Linked DNA regions of Homo sapiens. The protein of the gene in region 3 purifies or fractionates together with the protein of the main gene of each other region. This does not show direct contact. Each region holds a gene or a part of one and is shown on either strand. Other genes may lie near its edges.

Region 1 (6,202 bases), on a different chromosome or scaffold from region 3:
CAAGGTTGGTTCAACATACAAAATCAATCAATGTAATAAAGCATACTAAAGGACAAAAATCACATGATCATCTTAATAAAGAAAGAAAAAAAATTTGACAAAATCCAACACCTTTTCGTGATGAACAAACTAGTAACAGAAGAGAATTTCTTCAATCTGATAAAGGGCATCCACAAAAAACCCATAGATAATATCATACTTAGTGATGAAAGACTGAATGCTTTCCCTTAAGATCAAGAACCAGACAAGGATGTTGTTGGTTCTTGCTAGTCTAATAATATACTGGAGGCTCCAGATAGGGCAGTTAAATAAGACAAAGAAATAAAAGGTATCCATATTGGAAAAGAAGTAAAACTGTCTCCATGTGCAGATGACATGACCTTGTATATGGAAAATCCTAATGAACACATGCACAAACTACTTAATGAATAAATAACAGTTCAAGAAGGTTTTATGATAAAAGATCAATATACACAATTAAATTGTATTTTTATATAGTTAGCAATGAACAGTCTGAAAATGAAATTAAGAGAAAAATCCATTTATAACAGCATCAAAAAGAATAAAAATACTTCGAAATAATTTTAACAAAAGTATTACACAACTTCTACACTGAAAACTACAGGACACTATTGAAAGAAATTATAGAAAAACCTTATTATTAATATGTGACTTCTGAGCATTTGAAATGGGGCTAGTGTGACTAAGGAATTTTTTTTTTTTTTTTTTTTTTTTTTTTGAGACAGAGTCTCACTCTGTTGCCCAGGCTGGAGTGCAGTGGCACAATCTCGGCTCACAGCAACCTCCACCTCCCAGGTCCAAGCAATTCTCCTGCCTCAGCCTCCCAAGTAGCTGAGATTACAGGTATGTGCCACCACGCCAGCTAATTTTTGTATTTTTAGTAGAGATGGGGTTTCACCACGTTGGCCAGGCTGGTCTTGAACTCCTGACCTCAGGTGATCCACCTGCCTTGGCCTCCCAAAGTGCTGGAATTACAGGCATGAGCCCAGCCAAGAACTAATTTTTTTAAAGTTTTACTTAAACTCACCCTTTCTATAGCTTCTTTTTCCTGAGGTGTTACTTGAATGTAGTTCATATGACCACTTCCAGCTTCTGCAATTCCTCCACTGCCACCTCCACCTCCTCCTCCTTGACCACCAGCTTCTTGAACTGGTTCATTTAACATCTGAATAAAATGCTCCTGGTGTTGGCTAATTTGCTGTGGTGATATGAAGGACAGAGAAAAATAATACACTGATATTAAGTATCTGCAGGAACAGAGAAATTCTAAATATTACTAAGAGAAAAGGCTACACTTTTGCAAACGTAATTTAGTGATTCTGGATTATTCAGTCTTTGGAAGGATGTGATTTCTTATACAATAGTAAAGAAATTCAGTACTTTTGGGCAAAGTAAACAGTGAAGAAATTCAAATTCTTAAGTGCTCTGAGCCTCCTGTGCTTAAAAAAACAAAACAAACAAAAAACAAACAAAAAAAACTACTGTGGGACTATAAGAATAGAACTTATTCTTAATACTTGCATGTATTTTTTACCTTCCACACTAGTGGGCATTAAAATGCTGTATAAAATTCAAATACTTGGTGATCTGATCACTAAAGAAGCCCCACAGCTATTTTTTCTAAGAGTAAGTTGTTCCTGTTGCTTAAAAGTTCCTAAGAAAAAGGAACTGAGTAATAAGCTTGTGAAAAGTGATTTAAAGTTAGGCAGTTTCTCTGTTAAACAGCTTCCCAAATTCTTTAACATATTAATGTGTAGTGGGAATCTCCAAAAAGGAAATATAAAATGTTTCCCAAACTTACTACTATTTGGTCAACTTAATTTAACCCAACCTCCATATCCCAACTGTTTTTTTAGTACACCTATCTAGATTACAATATCTAAGTGTAGCTTGGAAGAAAACATTCACATTCTCAAATACAGAGTTGTATTTGAGGAGGGGAAGGACCGTTCATGGACTTTTTCAAATTGTGACACACTCTAAATCACTTGTGAAACTGACACTGATTAGTCACCTGAAGTAATTGAGGATTCTCTCGACCTATCTGCTGTAGTAACGCTGGAAGCAAGGAAGGATTCTGCTGAATAATTTGTCTCATCTGTTGAAACTGAGGCTGATTCCGTAAAAATTCAAGGGGATGTCCTAAAATACACATAAACATTTCTAAACAAAAGCAGTAAATACATACACAAACAGTGGTTAAATAATACATTTAGACAGCAAACACTATCAAAGAAAAAATGATTTGAGTTCTCAGATGTAATAAAATGAAGTAAATAATGATGAAATCTTCCAACTGTACCAACTTGCAAGTTTTATACGGCAAAAATTACTCCTATTAGCAAAGGCAGGGAGTGCAGAACGCTGACTGTAATATGAACCAAACTTTCCTATAATTGCCCTTGGCACTCAACGTTATAAAATAATACTAGAAACTTGTCTCCTGTGTGTGTTCTATCAAAATAAAAAGTACTAAAAGTTGTTCCTGTTGCTTAAAAGTTCCTAAGAAAAATATACACCACAACAAAAACAAAAACTCACTTACTTTATAAACAATGAAAACCCCTAAAAGAACACAATCTGAGCTTGAATTCCTAGGAATTCAAGAAACCAAAGAAGAAAAAGATATTTAAAGTCTGAGGTCAGGTTTTGCAAATCAGGAGAAACTTTAATCCAAACTTACATTAAGGAAGACTTCCGGTTATTACCATTAATTTTCAAACATTTGTGAACTACAAAAACTCGGATAAATAAGCTGTATGGCAATCTAGTACTAATATATCTAAACTCTTCAGTCTAAAATCCATTCACAATAATAAATGTTAATAATGCCAAATAAAATATAAAATACAGAACTTCTGGCTTTTTCAGGGTGCTGGTACTTGTCTGGTTATGCTATAGGAAACCAAAAATCGTACATACAGGAATTGTTTTTGAGGTTACTAATGAATAAAAGAGAATTTTTAGATGTATGTTGTAATTTCCTATTCAGGAAGACAATCATTCCAATTGAAATGACCACAGCACATGGGTTTTTTGTTCTTCCATATATAATACCAGCTTTACAGGTGAAGGCAACGAGACTTAGAGACTATGTCACCTAATAAGTGCTGAAAGGAACAGGACCCCAAATCCAAAGCAGAGCTGTGGTCATCTCTTTCCACTCCCATATGCTGAATCACAACAAACAAAGGGCCTGTCCTTGGGAGACTGTACACAAAGCACTGAGTGACCTTTGTCAACCAGAGGTGACTATCATTATCAGAGCTAGGAAATGCATGGAAGAATGGCCTTTTCAAGATCAACAGTTTAAATTACTTTATTAATATACAGAAGAACGAACGAAGGAGAACACTGCGTAATTCCTAAGCTGACCGCAGGTTCCAGGCTTTGCTCTGTAGTCAGACCTATAGCAATGTGTGGGGTATGGTCAGCACCCCAGTAAAGAGACTTCAATTCAAGCTTTGCTTTCTCCTCTAGATACAAGGTTTTAAACCTCTCACGGTTTCATTTCCTTGGCTGTATAATTACTAAAATCCTGCTGGCTTTGAAATTACATACACTTTGTAACATTTATGGAGAGAGTAAGAGACAAAGTGAGCAAACCATTCTGAATGGCATCAGAAAGTAACACTAAATACAAACTGGAAAGCATCTTTTCCTTAAAACAAATAAAACAGAATATGCCCTTCGGCAAAACTGCAACACTGATGTTTAATATCAGCAAGGATACCTTTTACATCCACTTGGGAAAGTTTCTTTTGGGCCTTTCTCAAACATTAGTGAAGAGAGAACTTAACGAATTATTCGACTGCTCTGGGAATGAACGTCATTTCTGAAGTATTTCAGGTTAAATTATTTTACACTAAAAATTCAGGGCCATTCCCTCCCCATCCAGAAGATTCCGCTTTACCTCCAGAACTTGTTGTTGTAGTTGTTGCTGTCGTAGTTGCTGCAGCTGCAGCCACTGCTGAAGACTGAGGAGCCCCAGTACTAGCTGCTTGAGGGGGGTCAACCACAGCCTGACTTTCTCTATCTCCAGGGATTCCCTGTAATAGAATTTCCAAGCTTTAAGATATCCCATCATGCAAAATTAAATATTATACAGAGTAAAAGATTTATAGTCTATTTAACATCTTGTTTGATTTTCAAAAGCATCAAACAGATGTCTGCTTCAATTAAAAGTAAAGGATTATTAAGCTGCATGGATTCAAATTAGATTAGAAATGACCTGGGTGCATTATAGAAAAACCCACATTGCTATAATAATGCAAAGCAGCACTGTCCAACAGAACTTACCATGATGATGGAAATATTCTCTGTGTTGTTCAATAAGACACCTACCAGGCACACGTAATTAGCATCAAATTTGAAAAATATTGATACATGTACCTTCTTAAAACTGAACACAACCAAAGGTTTTTGTGCTACCTATTAGTTCAGTTGACTTTTTAACTTCTTAGAAATCTTTATCAGCTGTTACTCAGTGATAAAAAGGATTGAGTTTGCAACTCTAGCTTAAGATAATCCAAAAAGAGGTTTTGATGCACACTTGACAGTTCTGAAATGACTCCTGGGGGAAAAAATATCTAATGGATACAGACCAGGTACACAGTGGCCAGGCAGGAGGATCTCCCCTACTGATCCATGGTACTGAGAAAGTGTCACTCAGAAAGTATCTCATAAATTTGAGGTACTTTTCAGTGAAGTGTTTCTTAAAGTGTCAAAGTATCTCATAAATGAGATACTTAAAGTATCTCATAAATGAGATACTTAAAGTATCTCAAAAAATGAGATAAAGTATCTCAAAAAATTTAATTTTTCAAAATTCATAAAATCGATATAAAAGAAATTGAAACCATTTAGTTTTTAGGTGATGCCTTTTGTAAGTTTATAGTACTTATCTTTTAAAGTTATTAAGAGCTTAAAACTGCATGCACTAAACTCTTTTGGGACACCTATTTTGATGCACATGATTGATAGACTTGTCATTTAAAATTTTTAAAAAGTCTTTATCAAGTTCTTATAGATTTTGAAGAGAATAAAGAACCAAGTATTACAATTGAATAAGATGATAAATGCTTCCATTCCCTAATAAACCAGAAGCCAAAAGCAACAACATATAAAGGATGAAGAGTAACACAGCAGGAAAATGGCTGCATGGATTAGATGTCACTCCAGGCATTAAAACCAATGTTTTTGAATGAGTTAACCAACGCAAACCCTTAACTCAGATGGGCAGTTATTTAAGTGCTAACAAACTACATACAAATTTAGGATCCAGGGCGTCCATCAAATTCTCTTTTATTAAACTAAAAAGTTCATCTTTATTGCTATAGATCGACCTCTATTCTCACACATTACATAGCCTCTTATATAAATGCTCAACATTTCTTCTTTCCATCCGTTCACCTTAACCTATCTCTTAACTAGTAACAGTTAAAAGCAACTTTTCCCCTTCAGTCTATGAAACAAAGAGCAAATATATAAAAAACATTTTAGTTATAAATTGTTTTTGATGAACTCATGTATCATCTATTTATTTGCATTTGATGCTCTACAGCAGTTTTAGCATTTGGTAACAATGATTCTGTATTTTTATACCTCAAAACTCCACATCTATTAGATCAAAATAACTGATACTGTTGAACTTATACAGAATTCTAAATCAGGTGTAAATGAAAGCCACTCCATAAAAGCTAATACTTTTATACAATCTGTTTAGGGTACACACTCCTCACCAAACAAATTCACAACAATTATTAATTCCACAATTCCAAACAAACTGGATAAACTGCCAGCATTTAAAGACACTACTCAAGAAGATAATGAAAAAGTGAATTTAAAAAGATAAAATAATATGCTAAGAAAAAGGTTTTGTGAACTTCACATGCAAAGGCATAGGCAAATAAATGGTGGAGGCAGAGTACAGTTATGAGGCTTATAACTGACTCTTCTGAAACTAGCTAGCTACCTGAAAGGAGTTTTTAACAGAAGTACAACCTAGACACAAAGGAATGGGTTAAACTGTGGATGTAATTCCCAAAAGGGTTAGAATCAGGCAACTTTAAGATGATATTTAGGGCAATTCAGACTTTGATAATACTCCAAAACACCAGACAATTATAGAAGTCTGAGATTTTAAAAAACTTAATTCAATTACTTTAGCCTGTGTCACATC
Region 2 (6,671 bases), on a different chromosome or scaffold from region 3:
TGGACTTCAGTTTGGCATTTGTCAAAATTTCTTGTTATAAACCTATGAGTGGTAAAAAAAATATATGGTCTGAATGTCAGTAGTTTTATGTGAAACTGTTTAAACTCTAAGACCACAGTTGTTAATTAACCAGTTGGTGTCAACATGGTAGGAGTGATGTGTCACAGGGCTCTGTCCTGTTCAACATTTTTATTAATGACCTGGAAAAAGATGCTGTTATCATGCTGACTGAATCCAGAATTCTGCAAAGCTAGAAAGGATAGCAAATATATTTGATGATACATCTGGATCTAAAAGATGACAGGGTGAAATAATGGGCAAATCTAACAAAATGAAACCTTGTAGGAATAAAAAGTCCTTCACATACAGCTAAAAAGCCAACTGTCCAAAACTATTTTATGGGTGGTCTTAATTTGATAGGACAGTTAAAAACGAATGGAGAGTTCAATAGTGAATTCAATAGGAATCAAAGATGTGCAGAGGCTTCCCTAAAAATCTACTGGGTCTTAGACTACACTAACAAAAGCCTGGCATCCACAGTGATAAGGAAAATGATCTTGCTCTTTTAGTTGTGGCCAGATCCTGAAATGTTCTCTTCAGTTCAGGACAGCACATGGTAACTTTTGGTATATATCATCAGAGTGCAATTTGAGTTTTTCAGTTTCTGACAGTTGATTTGAAAGGCTGATATTTTATGACTTCTGTTCTTCCTTAGAAGTATTCCAAGACAAAAATAACATATAGTTATATTTGTATAGGATAAAACCCATTGTATAGACTACAACTTTCTATTTTGCAATTACTATGTAGGTCTATTGGCCCCTTTTTATAAATCTAAGGGTATACTTGTATAAAAGATATATTTAAAAGGTATATTACATGGTATACAAGGTATAACAAAAGTATAAGGATATAAATCTATTATCTTTTTTTTTTTTTAAGACAGAGTCTCGCTCTGTTGCCCAGGCTGGAGTGCAGTGGCGTAATCTCGGCTCACTGCAAGCTCCACCTCCTGGGTTCACGCCATTCTCCTGCCTCAGCCTCCTGAGTAGCTGGAACTACAGGCACACGCAACCACGCCCGGCTAATTTTTTGTATTTTTAGTAGAGATGGGGTTTCACCGTGTTAGCCAGGATGCTCTCGATCTCCACCTTGTGATCTGCCCACCTCGGCCTTCCGAAGCACTGGGATTACAGGCGTGAGCCACCGCCCCTGGCCATAAATCTAATATCTTAATGATTTTTCTTTATCTTGAAACATTGTGATATTTCATCATCCATAATGATGGTATTGCTCATTATTTTCAACTACATTTTTAAATGACTAAAATTTAAAAATGAAAGAATGATTGGAATTGCCTAGAAAAATAATGTAATGGTGAAAGAATTACACTAACACAAGCTATTTTACAACATCCCATGTTTTCATATTGCTTTGCCCAAGATATTGCATCATCTTTCAAGAAGATACAAAAGAAGTCTAGAGGTATCCTCCTTGTAGTCTATTTTTGGCTTTTATTGAACACAGTTGAGATTTCACAATTTTTCATTTTTTGCCCATAATGGCAAAGAGAAGAAAACTGACAGAGAAAAACATTTCACAATTATTGAACGAATCAGAAGATGAAAAGAGACAGATAACAGCACTTTGGATGCTAATGATGATGATGAAATTGATTGTATAAGCAAAATCTCAATGAGAGATGATGATTATCTTGGATGAATATACTAGATGAATTTTCTCTAACTTAAGAATTGATGAGTAAACATTATATTTCTGGGGATGAAAAGAATATATGGTATTATCATGTAGTTAGCCTGACAACAGGAAAGATTTAATCCTGAAATATACTGTGACAATAACTTGTGCCATACTGTTTCGCTAAAAGGATGAGGACGGTATTCTTTCCCTTTTTATAACGTTTATGCACCAACATTTATTTGCCAAGGTTTGTAAATGAACATATTGTGATGAAAGATATGTATATAAAGGTGACTGAAAGAAAAGATTATGTAGAAATGAGTAAAATTCATTGGACCAATCATTCTAATTGGTGTTTATAAATCTAAAGATGAAAATATTTTCCAATTATGAAGAAAAGAAGATGGCTTTCTCTTCAACAAAATATATGCCTTTGTAGTTTTCAAAAGTGTTGGTTTTTTTGACAATACAAGTGCAAAAAGAACCAAGATTAATGATAAGCTAGAATTTATTAACGATGCACTCAAAATCTGGAATCAGTATTAACATGATGAATGCATTCCAGGTTCATGCTTAACAGTTGAGCACTTAGTTGCATTCAAAGTACTTTGCCCAGTTAGAGTACATACACCTTCAAAACTAGGATATATGGAATAAAAATTTGAATTTTTCCATGTTTAAATTCTTCTTGAAATTTCTAACACAGTTGTTTTCACTATCCCTTTATTCTTATTTGTAAATTATTTTTAAATGACTAAAAAAAAATTAAAGGTCCACTGGATAGTAAATGGGGATAACTGTTTCTACTGATCCACTGAGGGTTAAGGGGACAGTGCAAATTTCAATAATGGTTCTGGAAATTTTCAGACCTATAACACCTCAGATTGTTTAAAGTTTTGGATTCTCTCGCTCCCCAAGAAAAAGCACTTATGCATGAAATAGTATGTATTAAAATCCCACAAAGTACATGGATTCCTTGAAGTCCGTAGATGAGGAAACTGTGACTCAGAGAATAAGTAACTAACCTACATTTTAATTTGAAGGTAAGACATTATAACTTTATTGCCTGAGTTTAGCCTAAATAATATTTAGCATTTTATAGCTAGAAGTATTTCTTGGCCAGTTTAATACTAAAATTGTTAATTCAATTACTTTAAAGAAGAGAATGAAGCAATAGCTACTATGCTTTAGGACGTGTTCTCTTCTTTCCTAGTCATCTTTCTTTTTCACATTTCCGAAGTCAAGGATCTTTTTAAGCTCTCTGTAGTATAATGTTACAAGGCCGTGCAAACCTCGATCCCACTGTTAACCTCAGACAGTTCATTTCTTTCTGTTGGTGCTGAGGATCACTATCAGGAAATGAAAGAAAGGCTGGTAGACACAGCAGTCACTCGATATGTATAGACTGAAGAGATATGAGAATGCAAACAATATTAAAAGAATTGCAGCTGGGTCATTTAGAAGGGAAAGGAATAATCTTTCTTGAGAAGGCAGCAAACCTGCTGCTGACCTTCTACCTGCTAGAATGTGAGTTACTAATCAATATGACATGTACAACAGCCTGTCAAGTTTTATTGCTTAATGAGCCAGCAGAAAAAAAAGCAAATGTATGTACCAAGCGGGGGGCTCATTGTTCCTTGGTTAATATGTAGCATCTAACAAAGCCACTAGCTGGATCCCTTGACAGGTGTTTTCTACTGCTCCATTCCTTTGTCCGAGGCCGCACATACCAATCAAACACCACAATGCAGAGGTGCTCAAGGCTAGGAGCTGCAGGAAGCTGCCATGGGGCTTCTGGGCAGTTTTGTCGGCATACTGGTCTATCTGGGTGTATCGTCGTAAAGGGGGATTCTGAATTCCATTGCAACCCCAAGTGCAAATGTGGAAATCAAGCAACTTGGAACTTGAAAAAAAAAATCTACTATGAGAAGGGAAAGTGACTGCAAGAGGAGTCAAAATGATTCCTCTTGTTGGAAGGCTACCTCCCACCCTGAAAAAAAATCTTTTTCCTTGTCCAAAGCAATATTTAGAAGTGTTTCTATAGCAATTTCTATATACGTGCTTATCTGTGTATCTTGCTGTGGCCTGGGAGAATGAGCACATTCTTCTTCAAGGCCACAGGATGCAAGAAAGGGACAAACTCGGGGCTGAAGTATGAGAGAGAGCTCTCCTGACGTTAACACACATAATTATGGTTCTCAGGCAAAGAGCAGGCCTTTGCTCCGTCAACAGGGGCCTCCGCGTGCCCCGCAAGGGAGCTCCCGCCCTCACCATCCTCGGTTTCAGGCGGAGCGTAGTTCTCCGCGGTCTCGCTGTCGTTGTTTTCGGTCTCCTCCTCGCCCTCGCCTTCGTGGGCCAGGCCGGCATCCTGGACGGCAGCGGTGACGTTGGTCCCGCGCGCGGACTGGAGGCCCGCCAGAAGCAGCCAGCCGACAGTCATCAGCAGCCCGGCGGAGCAGCCCGTGCCCCTGGGGCTCATGGTTCTCGGCCCCGACGGCCGTCCGAGGCGCAGTCGCCGCCGCGGCTCCTGAGGACAGGTACGTCGAAGAGAGCTGCGACACCCCGCCCGTAGCCGCCCGGCTCCGAATCCCGTGACGAACCGTGACGCCTCAATGGTTGCCGGGGCGCTGCTCCGGTGCTGAGCGCCTGGAACTCGCGCGGAGCTAGGCTGCGAGGCGTGCAAGACGGAACGCGACGAGAAGCCGCGTGCGACAAGTCCCTAGGAGAGGACGCCGCCCTTCCCCGCAACCGGAAGTTCCCTGCCCAGGGCGCCTCCTTGAGCCTTCCGGGTGCGGTAGGCGTTGCTGTCGGCTGCTCCTTCTGCCTCAGTTTATGGAGCGACTCTTCAGCCTCCTCGCTCACCCTGCCTGCTTTCTTTTAAGACATTTCTTTTTCGTACATAATGTTTACCCTTCCCCAAACTAGACTTCTTATCCCTCACATACTCTTCGTGTGACTTGGTTTCAAAATTTCTTATCCAGAATATCCAATTTGGGATGTATTGAGAAGGATTCGATTTCTTCTTTGGGATCAGAATAATAGACTTTGAGTAAGAAGAAATTTAGAAATCATCTGATACTCCAAGTCCCTCATTTTTAAGTGAAGAGATTAAGAATCAGAGAGATGAAATGACTCGCCCCAAAAATCCAGAAATTATTTACAAAGCTGGATCTCACAGTCATATCTCCCGAACACTTACTTACTCGATGATCAGTGATTCTTATGATTCAAGGTTAACGAAGAAGCCTTTAGTGGGGGTGATTGGGAGTTCAAGCGCTGAAAAGTTAGGGTTGACTTTTTTGATTCTGTTATTACAAATTTTACCTCATCTAGTAGTCACAATGTGGTTGTTTGTTGTTGTTTTTGAAAAGACATATAGGGTGCCATACTTTGAGGCTTAATGTTTAAATTCCTATGACAAGTGAGATGAAAGTGAACTTGCATACACTCTGGCTTTTGGAATATTTGAATATCTAGTCTCAGCAGACTAACAGATAAGGGGGGTAACAGAAAAGTATTAAGAGGTTCTTCAGAAACACTTATTTGTAACAAAATAGGTTGTTTGAAGCAGAAGTTGAAATTTTGTATTTGAATATTTTCTCCTGCAAAGGCTTCTAATTTTGAAAATACAAGGACTGCTAAACACCTTCAGTGTTAAAGTTCAAATTGGTATTGGTGAGAAGTCTCGGGAACATTTATGTCAATTAAAATACCTTAAAATATAGCGCTTGACAAGATTATGAGGGACGTTAACATGGAAAACTTAGATTTGATCTTGAGAAGTAAAGGCCTTTGTTTCATGGCTAAATGAGTCAAAATTTTTCTTTTTTGAATCCTGAGAGAAATAAGTCAAAAATTATGCCGTCAAACACAAACTTTAAAAAGATGATATATAGTATTGTTGCTGGCAAATTGTTGAGTGTTTCAAAGTCAATTTTAGGATCCATTGCTTCCTGAAGATAGTATCCTTTTTTAGCAGAGGAAGTCCCATAAACTCTAAAATATGTAATTTGACTCAAGGAAACATTAATAATCTAACAAATAATCATCTCCAAAGGGAGCCAGATGGGTCTCAAAGAGGACCTGAAAGATTTAACTCTGAAATAAAGACTATTAATATCTCTAATAGCAGCATTATAAATCACCTATAAAATACCATGTCACGCATGTAAGTTATAAGAAAAAGTATAATATCTGTCCTCAACAAACTTTTACTGTCTCTCTAGTACTCTCTCTAGCCACAAATAAATGAAAGATAAGTGTTTAGCCAGAAGGGCAGGGCACAGAATCTAGAGGGACTGACCCTACTCTAACCTGCAGATACTAAGGAGCAGGAATTCCACCCTGGATCCCTGATATGCTCCTCTGACCCACCTCATCCTGCCTGGAACTAAGCATCTCCACCCCCATCTCCAATTTCCAAGAGGTGGGGATTAGAGCCCAAACTCCTCTGCCCCACTCTGCCCAAACATAGCTCACCTATCTTGGTCTGACCTTACCTTGCTTGGCCTCATTTGGTATGTGGGAAAATCATTCCTCTATCCAGTCTCTGCACTACCTACCCTTGAAGACCAATTTGTATTCTGAAAAGGAAGACCAATTTGTGTATGTGTGATATAAGCACAAGATAATCAAGGCCTAAATAAAGGATTACCATAAAAATGAAAAGAGAAATGAATGTGAGAGAAATAACAAAGGAAGGATTAACAAAATGGAATGACTGGCTGCCTAAGCAGGATAAGGGAGTGAGGGAGGGAGCAAATAAAGGGAATTAGGAAAGTCAGTAGACATTTTGTTTAAAGGTTAAGTTGGAGGTATCAACAGAAGTCAAGTGAAAACATTCGTTGGGCAGCTTGAGATGACCACATACCAAAAAAGAAGATGAAAATCACTGATACACGCCACGAGCATGAAAAAATACACACACACACACACACATTCAGTTAATACAATGTTCTAAGTACTGCTAT
Region 3 (6,202 bases):
TGAGATCATGCCATCACACTCCAGCCTGGGCGACAAGAGTGAAACTCCATCTCAAAAAAAAAAAAAAAGAAAACGAAAATGAAAAATAGATACGATTAAAATTCCTGGAAAAGATGGAATGGTTTTTGCTAGGTTGATTTGTTGAGTATCTGTAATAACTAGGGAACCTGAGTATACACACACATACTCATAGATTCTATGTTCTTATGAGTAACAACAATGCAGGTAATGTAACTCACATATAGTCGAGATAGAGTCAAGGGAGTTTTCAGTCCAGACTCTGTATGTACTATTCTTGAGTTTAAAAAGGAAGAGATATCAATGTCAGAGATGTATAGAAATTGTTTTAATTGGCAAATTAAAAACAAAGCAAAGGCCGCCAGTGAATTAGGAAAAGAACTATCAGAAGAAAAGTGGGTCCTTGTTCTAGTGCTTAAATGATGAGTGAAAAATACTGTTTCTATATATGGTCAAGATTATGAGTAAATTTAACATTAAGTGCATTCATATGTGTTTAATCATTGTTCTCAATTTGGTTACCATTTCCATTTTTAAAGTACACAAGGTTGCTTAAATCCACACAGGAGATAATGTATCGTTCATGATTTAAGAAGTTAGATATGGTTTCTTAGCAAAAGAATTATGATAATGTTAAAATATTGGAACACAACACAGAAATACACTTACTGCTGGTTACTATTCCAGTTAATCAACAAATTGATGGAATAAAAGCAAGTTATATTTATTATACTCGTGGCTGTGGCCAAAATTACTATGAAGGCTGCCAGAGTACTTCCCGTTTTTCACCCCCTCGCTTCTTAGAAAGGCTTATGTTTTCATCTAAAATGCTGTTTATTTGGCATCAAATCAAAGATAAATTGCTAAGGAAAGCTTGAGTTAAAACTTTAGCCAAAGTGAATTTTATTCCTAAGTGGCCAAAACAAACATACAAAGCCCCAGCTGCTACCACTCCACCAGTCTCCCTTCTTTGCTGCTCAGAAATGTATCCCTTTATCCCTGAAGTATGACAAGTCACCAGCCCAAAGCCTGGGTTTTGCGAATGATGTCTGAGCCCCTGAAAAAGGCGGACTCAGCAGTTATGATGCTCATTGATGCCAAACAAATCCTGTATTATGGTAACGGTGGGAAGACATACCTGAATGGTGAAAGGGGTTAGCTTCTTTTTGTTGATTGTTCTTTCATCAATTGTGTCTGGCACTGACAGGTTGATCATTTTACTGAAAGAGAAACAATTAAATTAAAGAAAGCAGTCTTCTGAATAACAGAGCCCAGTAACGTTGAATTTAAATTCTAGCAATACCATAATCAAAGAAGATAGCAACAGAATCTGTGATGTTTAGATATAAAATCAGTTATGCCGTTTGACTAGACTCAAACTATCTGCGGGAAAGGTGAATACTACTGAAGCCACATTCATATATTGAGGTTGGAAATGAGGACCCCACTTCATTCTCCCACCTAAACAGCTGCAAAATTATCCTGATTTTCTTAGCACATTAGGAAATTCTGGGTGGATAACCAAAGTAATTCTACCATAAGTACTTTATTTTCTTAGCCATGAAAATTGTCCCCATTATATAAAAGACTGTCTACAAAATTCTGAGCTTATTATTGTCTACATTTCTATTTGACACAGGACCAAACTTTGTATCTTCAGCTAATCATATGATAACATTTTTATATCCTTCTCAGTGCCCTAGGCTGAGTACCAATGAGTCACAGGGGTCTTAGAAGGTAAAACTAGCAGATTGGGGGAAGACCATGGGGTGCCTTGGGTGGCAACCTAAAAGCTAGAATTTTGATTTTTTTATAGCAATTGAACCTTTTAAAAATGAATTCTCAGGACAAACTAATAAATAAAATATCAAAAGTAGAATTGCTCTGGTCAGAGCAGAGGAGAAAGCTCAATGTCTTTCCCACCCATTGTTATCCTTTAAGTCCTGAGTCCCTCACATATTGAGCACCTCAAGTCACTTCACTTACAACTTGGCCTGTGATGACAGAGAACCTGCTGAAGCAAGAGCTACAGAGGTATTTTCAAAGACACCACGTTGCATTGAGCAGCACCATATTTAGAGGCCTCCCGTGGGTAGGATGCAGTCCCCCTTTTCCAGGTGTCCTCAATGTTTGAGTTGTGGATTTCTGTGCATCACTCAAAGGTTTCTTTGCTTAAGGACTACAGTTTAAGGACTTCTTCCATCATCCTGCTGCTATTATCAATTCTATCTGCTTTCATGGTGAGCCACGCTCAGATGAAGCCAAGCAGCATATATTCCAAAAATATATAACCAGGAAAATTGTCCTCATTATAGAAGAGACTATCTATGTACTTCTGAGCTTACATAATGTCTACATTTCCGCTTGATGCCTGATCCAACTTTATACTTTAAACTTGTCATCAGATAAACTTTTTAATGTCCTTCTATAGTCATTATTTAATCAGTATTTTATAAGTTTCCCCCACTTAATTATCTAATACATTGATTAGACATCTAATGCTTTTGACTTGGTATAACTATATCTTCCATGTTTATCTCTATAATGTTTATCCCTCCTCTCCACTCAAGCAATAGCAATTTTACATTTCTCATTATAAATTGTTTTTGAATTTAGTTTGCTGTCCTGGACCTGGCCAAGTGAAAGTCCAGAAAAGCCTTCTAGGTGCAGCTGAGCACCAAACAAAGTTGGCCTACGATAAATAACGATTAATTGTTGATGGTCTAGAAAATGGGCAATTCTTTGGAAACCAAGAAAGAAGTATTATTTACCAAAGGACAATGCCATCTCCAACAGCATTAAAGAGATCATTCGTGTTTGGGTTCATTGGGATGACATGCCGACAATCAGGATCATTTTCCAGGGCTTTGTTTATCCAGTTGACAAAGGCATACTTTTCTTCCTCTGCAAGTAAATGATTAAAGTGACTCATTTGCAAAGTGAAACTCTATTATAAACAAAATTATGCATGTGGATCTTAAATTCTCATTCCCAGCAGAGAGATGTGAGTTTATTCAGTCCATTATCTTATCATCTCATATTTATTAAGATTTAAAAATCTCAGATCACTTGGGAAATAGGCATTGAGTCTGTGTACTCCAAGTCATAAAACATAGAGCAAACAGATTTAAAAACTATCTCTCTGTTTCTTTTCTTTTCTTTTTTTTTTTTTTGAGATGGAGTCTCACAGTGTCACCCAGGCTGGAGTGCAGTGGCGCGATCTCGGCTCACTGCAAGCTCTGCCTCCTGGTTCACGCCATTCTCCTGCCTCAGCCTCCCCCGTAGCTGGGACTACAGGCGCCCGCCACAACACCCAGCTAATTTTTTGTATTTTTAGTAGAGACGGGGTTTCATCGTGTTAGCCAGGATGGTCTCGATTTCCTGACCTCGTGATCTGCCCACCTCAGCCTCCCAAAGTGCTGGGATTGCAGGTGTGAGCCACCGCGCCCGGCCAAAACTATCTCTCTGTTCCTATATATACGCATAATCCAGATATATATTTACATTTAGAAGCAAATATATACATATGTTTATTTTCTATATATAAATACATAAATAATAAAAATATTTTATTTATATGTGCATGTATACATATATATATACACATATAAATACAAATGTGGTATAATGCTTACAGGACAAAACTCAGGATTCCGCTTTTAGCTCTGCTGGTTTAAATGTTGGATCACTGTGGACAATCCTTATTGTACCTCTGAGTTTCTTGATACAATTATAATTAAATTGCTATAAAATAAAATCATTTGGATATAATCTTTTTTTCCTAACAGTAAAGCTGCCAGAAGGTGATTTTTAGATGTTTTAATAAAAACTCAAGTTATGTCTTCACAGCCTAGCACTATGTTTCCCAAACTGACAGTTTTTGAAAACAGTAGTGTCCCTCAGAGAAATCCTGAGTCATAAAAGTTTGGGAAATACTGTGTAGTGAATGTATCTCCGCCTTAAAGATTCACATTGCACATTTGACCCAGCAAAGGTTCTGAAAATTCCTGTATTTAAAAACAAAAGGCCAAACGTTGTCTTAGCAACTATAGATGGTATTTAATCATGACTTATCTTTTTTTTTTTTTTTTTTTTTTTTGAGACAGAGTCTTGTTCTGTCGCCAGGCTGGAGTGCAATGGTGCAATCTCGGCTCACTGCAACCTCTGCCTCCTGGGCTCAAGCGATTCTCCTGTCTCAGCTTCCCGAGTCGATGAGATTACAGGCATGCGCCACTGCACCCAGTAGAACGGGGTTTCACCATGTTGCCCAGGCTAGTCTTTAACTCCTGACCTCAGGTGATCCACCCGCCTTGGCCTCCCAAAGTGCTGGGATTACACGCGTGAGCCACTGTGCCCGGCCTCATGAGTTTATCTTTAAGATCAACTAACGTTTTGAATAATTCAGTTTTGGAAATGTTGCAACAACTATACTGTTTGGCCTGTTGGAAGTTTCCATTATGGCTGTTGGATGGCAGCCTTCGGAATAAATTTACAAATTTATTCCAAATCAATGAAAACATAATTTTTTGATCACTTAGCAGGTGTTAAAAATTATCATGAAGTTTAAAGATAGAAGCTTGAGTAGCTAATTTTGTCCATAAGATTTAGAAAGGAATCTGGGCAGCCTTTAATGATTGTTTAAATGCTGATCAAATCATTTTGTATTGGACCCTACCCAGAGCTAGGACTGCTCCTATATTATGTACCCAGAACTGACCCACTTAGTCACAGGAAAATTGGGAGTCATCCATAAAGCTGTGTTTGCTTCTGTCTTTGTTTACATCCCTTAGGTTTGAATACCAAGTTTAGAATCTGTAATCCTGAAATCCTGCTCCAACCCAGGAGTTGAGCCTACCTGAATAGGAGTGTTGGGTGCCAACGCTAGACTGCTCTGAAGTACCACCGATTGCACAAATCCCTTCCTTCTTATTGATTGCTTTTCTAAAGGTCTTGGCAACATCTGTGCTTTTTAGGCCATGGAAAATCTGCAAAAATATAATGTATCTTTAGAAACTCAAGCAGTGATCAAGAAAATCACAAAGGAAAGAATATGTAATGTCGAAGCAAGGAGGTAAGGAATGTCTTTCTGGATATTTTTTAAAACAGAATTCAAGTTCCAAGTTTCAAATGTGTCTCCTTGTATTCTGCATGGTACTCACCTTGATAAACTCATCAAAGCTGATCCTTCCATCTTGGTCCAGATCACCTGTAGCCATCAGGTTTTCTGTAATTTCTCGTACTCTATACCCAGGCAAAGGCAAGCAAGCAGCCTTGAACAAGTCATTCAACTCATTGAAGCTGATGTATCCATTGCCATCAGTATCTGTAATGTACACAATATACTGAAGCTTCAGGACGATTCAGGCAACAGCTTTTAGAGAGGTGAGGGAAGACTAGATGGAAGGTGAAGGGACGAGAGAGGCTATCATTCAGACATTAAGGCATGATCCCAGGGAAGAGTCAGAATCTCACAAGATGACTGTTGCTACTGAATAGGGGCACCAGCATTACTTTCAACATCCACAGTAAAAGAGTCATAATTTCTATAAGGTACCTCTGTTTCCACAAAGAACTCTTATAGAAACTCTTAAGGAAACCACAGGTTTAGTGATAAAGAGTAAGAGAAAGTATGTGATGGTATTAAAATCAAGGAAACAGCAAAACAGAAGACAAGATATAAAAGATGAGACTTACAAACCATTTCCAGGAACAAACTATGTAAGAGTAGAGTCCATATTCCATGTTTTGATAGAGAAAGTCATTTTATTGAAGCATATTTTTCAAAAATAAGTTCTCCCAGCTCCTCTAAACAAATACTACTGGTTTCTTGTCATCTCTGAAATTTTGCTCATGTTCCCATTTCATTGAATCTACCCTGAAGCTACTCAGTGAAGAAGAGAATGATGCAATTTGGGGTACCAGGTCTACTCACCAACTTTGGCAAAAGCTTCTCTGAGCTCCATCATTTCCTCATCGGACACTGATCCTCTGGCCATTTTTTATTGCTTTAGGTAACAGATCTGGAGAGAAGAAGAACATAAGGGATAACTTTTGTGCATTTGAATTCTTAAAATACCACATTAAGAAGCAATTCCCATTTATTACATGAAGAAATATTCTTCTGCATCCCCCATGATTTAGAACTATCTTTCCAAAATGTAAGTCAGAAATACGCTTTTTCTCA
Region 4 (6,202 bases), on a different chromosome or scaffold from region 3:
GGACTCTGAAAAGTTAGGTGAATTGGCCATGTCAGAAGCTAGTACATGATAGAAGAGGGACTAGAATACGAGCTTCTTAACAGCTTATCTCTTTTATTTGCAGATATTAGACTGGTTATATGAAAACTTACCGTTACAAAATGATATTTTCTTAACCCAAGTAAATAAAATAGAATGAACTATATATAATATATATAATGAACTATATATAATTCTTCAAGATTCTAATGCATGCTTGTTTAGAGCTTGCTGTTAACCTAAGCAATGAGATAGCAATCCCTTTCATTATTTGTTGACTCCCCTTAATAGAGTACCTAATGAACATTGCCAACTTAAGAAAAAAATGTTTTTTTTTCTGCAATGTCAGCTCTGAAATTCAGCTTTGTTGCCTCTTTATAGGACAATTGCAGGCGAGCTGAAAATGTTCTTCGTTTATGGATCATTGAAGCCAAGGACCTTGCCCCTAAAAAGAAATATTTCTGCGAACTGTGCCTTGATGATACCCTCTTTGCTCGTACAACCAGCAAGACCAAAGCAGACAATATTTTCTGGGGCGAACATTTTGAATTCTTCAGCCTTCCACCTCTTCATAGTATCACAGTTCACATTTACAAGGATGTGGAAAAAAAGAAAAAAAAGGACAAGAATAATTATGTAGGGCTAGTCAACATCCCCACTGCCAGTGTGACTGGTCGCCAATTTGTAGAAAAGTGGTATCCAGTGAGTACACCTACACCCAACAAAGGAAAGACAGGAGGACCTTCTATTCGGATTAAATCACGTTTCCAAACTATCACCATTCTGCCTATGGAGCAATACAAAGAATTTGCAGAATTTGTCACCAGCAACTACACCATGCTGTGTTCTGTCCTTGAGCCAGTAATTAGTGTGAGAAATAAAGAGGAGTTGGCTTGTGCCTTAGTGCACATTCTTCAAAGTACTGGCAGAGCCAAGGTAAGTGGAAAAGGGGGATTGCAGTACCTGAAGTCTCTTCCCTACCTTTCATAAACCAAGATATGGATATTGTAGAAATCCAAATTAGAGAAATGTGCTTTACTATTGGTCAAAACAAGAAGAATTAAGAAGAAAACCTATTAGATCCAGAAAAGATGAAGATTATAAAACTAAACAAGTAAAATGGAGAGACCAGCAAATATTTAAAGCCAATTTGCATGAAACATAGATAACACAGCCAGCTCTTTCTTGTCTGACAAAATAAATGGTAGGATTGGCACGATAACCCTACAGCATGTTCAAGGTTCCTTATCTTTAATTTAGTTCTAGAGTGTTGTATGGTGGTTTTCTTCCTCACTGTATTTTATTTAAGTTTAACTGATGACTGTATCCTCTAGGCACAGAAGGAAGTATTCCAGAAGCATATTGAGTATTAGCAAGAGTCTTTGTGGGATTAAAATCTATATTTAGAATAAAAATCCAAGGGATATGATACAATTGGTAGCTGTTTCATGATACACTTATTTCACCTTGGATAGAAGTAAAAACTCAGGAATATTTTTTATTTAAAGGAGAAATATGCTGGTTGTGGGAAGAACAAAAACTAGTTGAGAGAGTCTTTGACCTATGAAGGATATTAACTAGGAAGAGTTACCGTTATACTGTATGCAAACTGGTCATGATAAAATTACATCTCAGATCCAAAGAAACTCACAGCTAGAATAATGTATTTAGAACCAAACAAAGTACTATTACTATTTCTTGATATGTCGGAATATATCAATATATTCAATATTTAGTCTCTTATCTGGCTTCTATGGATTATAACTTTTGTGTTTAAATTTACTTATGATAATCTTGGGCATTCTGTCATTAAAAAGCTTATGAGTTTGGAGCGAGGTGTCACTGAAATTTTGAATTGTATGGATATATTTCTACTTTTCAGTTGCTCAAGGTTCAGAATATACATTAAGACTTTTTTAAATGACTTAATACTGATTTACGTACATTTTAGGTAGAATAAACACCCATTTAAAGTGGAAAAGTTCAGTAAGCTTTGACCGATTTTGCACCCATCGAAACCACCACTATGATCAAGATACAGAATGTTACCGTTACCCCCAAGAGTTTCCTCCTGTCTCTTAGCATTAAGTTTAATAGTGATTCCTAAGTCTACAACTCTGTTATACTGTTAAGCTGCCCCAGAGTAAGTCCCATTGATGTTTAAAATGCTTAATTTTAAAGTAAAAGTAAATCAGCATATTCCTCCTATTTTGGCATTTGCAGCCCTTGAAATATCCAATAATTATATAGCATTCAAAATATATGATGTTATCACATTCAAACTGAACAACCAACATTGAGCTTTACTAGAAGTTCTTTAAGACTGTTGAGGAATGAAGCAGCTGTTTCTTTGCACCTTTATTTCCCCTTATGCTATCCTTCTGGATTGATGGATGGATGGACGGATGGATGGGTGGGCGGGCAGACAGAAAGATAGCCTAGACAATGACTTCAAGTGATGAGTTCAGTAGATTCTACATTGACACTGTGGACCGATTTGTAAGTATTATATATTGAACACCTAATATATGCCAGAAACTGTTAGGTGCTGGAGATATGGTGGTAAACAAAAACAGAAACTGGTTTTCTGGGGAAAATAAATATTAATCAAGTAATTACAGAAATAAATATGATTACAGTGAGAACTACAGAGGATAAAAAGAGAGATGATACTATGAAATGGAGCAAGGGGAGCTGACTAATGGAGTTCAGGGGCAATGTTGGTCAGGGACACCTTCACTGAGGAAATGATGTGTGAACTAAAATCCAAAGGATCCCAGGAATGAGCTACCTGACAGTGGGAGTGGAAGCAAGGGTGGGAGCAGAGCAGAACTGAGAACAGTATTTGGAAAAAAAAAAAAAAAGGCTTTGTGGTGAATAGAGAACATTGTGTGTGTTAGAAAGGGCTTGGTGTATTAAAGGACCTAAAAAGAAAAGGTACAAGGCTTGAAAGGTAGACAGAAACCAGAAAATATAGGGACTTGTAGACTGCATTCAGAATTATGGCCTTTATCAAAAGTGCAATGGAAAATCTTTGAGGGAATTTTAAATGTAGGGGTAGGAACACCTAACATTTTATCCTGATTGCTTTTTTTCCTTTCAGATGAATCTGATAGCTTTAGTTTTAAAGCAGCATTTCCAGGATGTCTGATATTTCAAAAGTCTCTTCTAATGTGTATTATTTATTCAGTTGCTTTCTGCCTGATTGAACATTATTCTACCAGGATTTTCTGACTGACTTGGTGATGTCTGAGGTGGATCGTTGTGGAGAGCATGATGTCTTGATCTTCAGAGAGAACACTATTGCCACCAAATCCATTGAGGAATACCTCAAGTTGGTGGGACAACAGTATCTTCATGACGCACTGGGTATGAAAGAGAAAAACATCTATTTTCTTTTATTTACTTTTCAGTTTTAAGCTATTTCACCCCCATGAGACGAATTGAGCTCAAATTCTGCATGTTATTTAGTTCTAGCTGACTCAGGTGTTAAGGTTTGAATCATGGCTGTAAGAAGTCTGCAGTACTCACCAGTAGAGAAATAATAATAAATGTAGAAACAGAAACCTTGTCAGCATACACTGCTACCCCAGGTCCCCAGCTTCATGATTCCAGGATGCACAGTAATATCAGCAGTGTCCACTGATAGATCTGAGGTGGTCTGTTTTGCCCAAAGTTTTGGGTGTTTATATGATGATATTATTACCTAGTCTTGAGAGTGTTACCCTGACATTTGTTATCATGCATGCAAAACTCTAATCAAAAGTGAAGAAACTCTTGCCACTTCCCACAACTCCCCCACAAATTTCTGCCTTTCTCTAGAATTTTTAACATAACTAATTTTTGTCCAATCAGTAGTTCTTGCTGACTAGGCTACGCACTTGCAGTTCCAGATTTGGTCATGAAATTGAGGCATTAACCGCTAGAGTAAGGTACTGTGCTGGTCACTTTAATATACATCATGATAGAGCAGATGTGAGTTCCTTGAAGGAAATAGCCCTTTGTTTTACCTCCATATCCCCACTACCTGCACACACTGTTGAGCAGCACTGTCCGATAGAAATATGACCCATGTGTGAATACTTTTATTTATTTTTATTTTTTGAGTAATTGTAAATTTTCTAGTAGTCACAGTATTAAAAAGGATGAAGAGAAACAGGTGAAATTGATAACATATTTCATTTGACCCAGTATATCCAAATACTATTTAATGGTTTAGAAGAATAAAAGTTATTAATTAGGTGTTTTACTTTTTTATTCTTTTTGAAAATCAGTGTGTATTTCACATGTATCACACATTTTAATTTGCACAAGCCATTTCTAATGCTCAACAGCCACGTGTGACTATCAAGAATAGAAAGTAAAAACATGTTGAATGATTGGAGAGATTTTTACCCTCGAGAAGTTTGCAATGTAAGGATATAACATTAGGGATATCTCTATACCAAAAAGAGACATTCTGTGTTCTTTCAAATAATTTTAAAAAAATTGAATCCAGCTGATAGAATTGTCAAACTTTCTGTGTGAAATACATTTATGTTTTGTATGTAGTTTGATGAATAGAAAGGTTAAAAACAGACATTGAGCAAGAGCAGATAAGATAAGAAGTAGCATGGGGGAAAGGACCCATAAACAAAAAGACATAGAGGTGGGACAGAACCAGGAATGTGTGGAATAAAACTATTTAGCTGGAAAAAGACATGAAAGAAACATGTGAACAACAACAACAAAAAGATTAAACAATAATTAGAACTAATTTGTGAAAACCTCAAATGCCTGGGTGAAGATTTAAAGTTTACAGTAATAACTGGAGAGCCACTGAAAGTTTTGAGCAGGTGTTTTCAGTGGAATTAACTTAGCAGACTGATTAAGACGAGTTGTATCCAGGCATGGTGGCTCACATCTATAGTTCCAGCTACTCAGGAGGCCAAGGTAAGAGAACTGCTTGAGCCCAGGAGTTCGAGGCAGCAGTGAGCTATGGTCACATCACTGCACTCCAGCCTGGGTGACAGAGAAAGACCTTGTCTTAAAAAAAATAAATAAATAAATAAAGGTGAAGAAAGCCTACTGAAAGCCAATCAATTAAGAAGCCATTGTAGGCTGGGCGCGGTGGCTCACACTTGTAATCCCAACACTTTAGGAGGCCGAGGCAGGCCCACCACCCAAGGTCAGGAGTTCGAGACCAGCCTGGCCAACATGCTGAAACCCCATCTCTACTAAAAATACAAAAATTAGCCAGGCATGGTGGCGGGCACCTGTAATCCCAGCTAAGGAGGCTGAGGCAGGAGAATTGCTTGAACCAGAGAGGTGGAAGTTGCGGTAAGCCAAGATTATACCATTGCACTCCAGCCTGGGAGACAAGAGCAAAACTCCTTCTCTTAAAAAAAAAAAAAAAAAAAAAAAAAAAAGCCATTGTAATAAGAAAGAATGAGACTCTGAATGACTGTAATCATGCAAGTAAGAATAGAGAGGAAGACGGATATGAGAAATATTAAGGTTGAACTGATAGAACTTGGCAAATTTTTCAGTTTGTGGGAAGCAAGGAGGGAACGAATATTACAGAGAATTGTGGGGTGTTGTGAGTGACTAGGGGGATGATGAGATTCTTAACAGGAATAGAAACCACAGAAGTAGTAGGTGTGAAACAGTGGAAATTACATATATATTCAATTTGAAGTTCTAGTAGGAAATCTCAGGGGTTTTAGATAGGCAATCTAAGATACCTGTCTAGCTGGCTGTTGGAAATTTGAGACTAATTTATGCTTGTGGAGAGGTTAAATGAAGCTGTAAGATTACCAGAGCAGGAAGAGAACAGGGCCAAGGATAGATCTTAGAGTGCACCTGGGTTTATGGTATAGAATGAAGAAGAGGAATCAGAGAAGTGATCAGAGAAAGAGAGAGCATCCAAAAAAGAAAGAAAACCAGGAAAATACTGAGTCCTAGATACCAATAGAGAAGAGAGCATCAGTAGAGTCAGAAATTATGGAAGGTAAAGAAAAAGAATGGATATTGCATTTGGCACCTTAAATATCACTAGTGATGGCTCACACTGGTTTCAGGAGGAAAGGAGGCAGGCTGTAAGGAATAGAGTGAGTCGCCATTCAAGAAACAGGATCACTGTGTTTACATGAAGCAGACACATTATAGTAGCTACTACAATTAGTTTCTGCTCTGAAGCAGATTT

What was found.
Region 1: the proteins of LCP1 (region 3) and RAD23B fractionate together in Homo sapiens (co-fractionation; one large-scale study listed by BioGRID). This does not show direct contact.
Region 2: the proteins of LCP1 (region 3) and SPACA1 purify together in Homo sapiens (co-immunoprecipitation; one large-scale study listed by IntAct). This does not show direct contact.
Region 4: the proteins of LCP1 (region 3) and RASAL2 fractionate together in Homo sapiens (co-fractionation; one large-scale study listed by BioGRID). This does not show direct contact.

What each region holds. Positions count from the first base shown.
Region 1 is NC_000009.12:107,319,851-107,326,052, reverse strand, and holds part of RAD23B (UV excision repair protein RAD23 homolog B), read right to left. Parts: intron 4,071-6,202; coding exon 3,935-4,070; intron 2,164-3,934; coding exon 2,036-2,163; intron 1,220-2,035; coding exon 1,049-1,219; intron 1-1,048. UniProt on the Homo sapiens protein: Multiubiquitin chain receptor involved in modulation of proteasomal degradation. Binds to polyubiquitin chains.
Region 2 is NC_000006.12:88,045,415-88,052,085, reverse strand, and holds the start of SPACA1 (sperm acrosome membrane-associated protein 1 precursor), read right to left. Parts: upstream 4,246-6,671; 5' UTR 4,181-4,245; coding exon 3,973-4,180; intron 1-3,972. UniProt on the Homo sapiens protein: Plays a role in acrosome formation and establishment of normal sperm morphology during spermatogenesis. Important for male fertility.
Region 3 is NC_000013.11:46,153,649-46,159,850, forward strand, and holds part of LCP1 (plastin-2), read right to left. Parts: intron 6,045-6,202; exon of another isoform or gene 6,039-6,044; 5' UTR 6,015-6,038; coding exon 5,951-6,014; intron 5,342-5,950; coding exon 5,178-5,341; intron 5,004-5,177; coding exon 4,874-5,003; intron 2,923-4,873; coding exon 2,790-2,922; intron 1,239-2,789; coding exon 1,157-1,238; intron 1-1,156.
Region 4 is NC_000001.11:178,442,276-178,448,477, forward strand, and holds part of RASAL2 (ras GTPase-activating protein nGAP), read left to right. Parts: intron 1-399; coding exon 400-954; intron 955-3,242; coding exon 3,243-3,387; intron 3,388-6,202. UniProt on the Homo sapiens protein: Inhibitory regulator of the Ras-cyclic AMP pathway.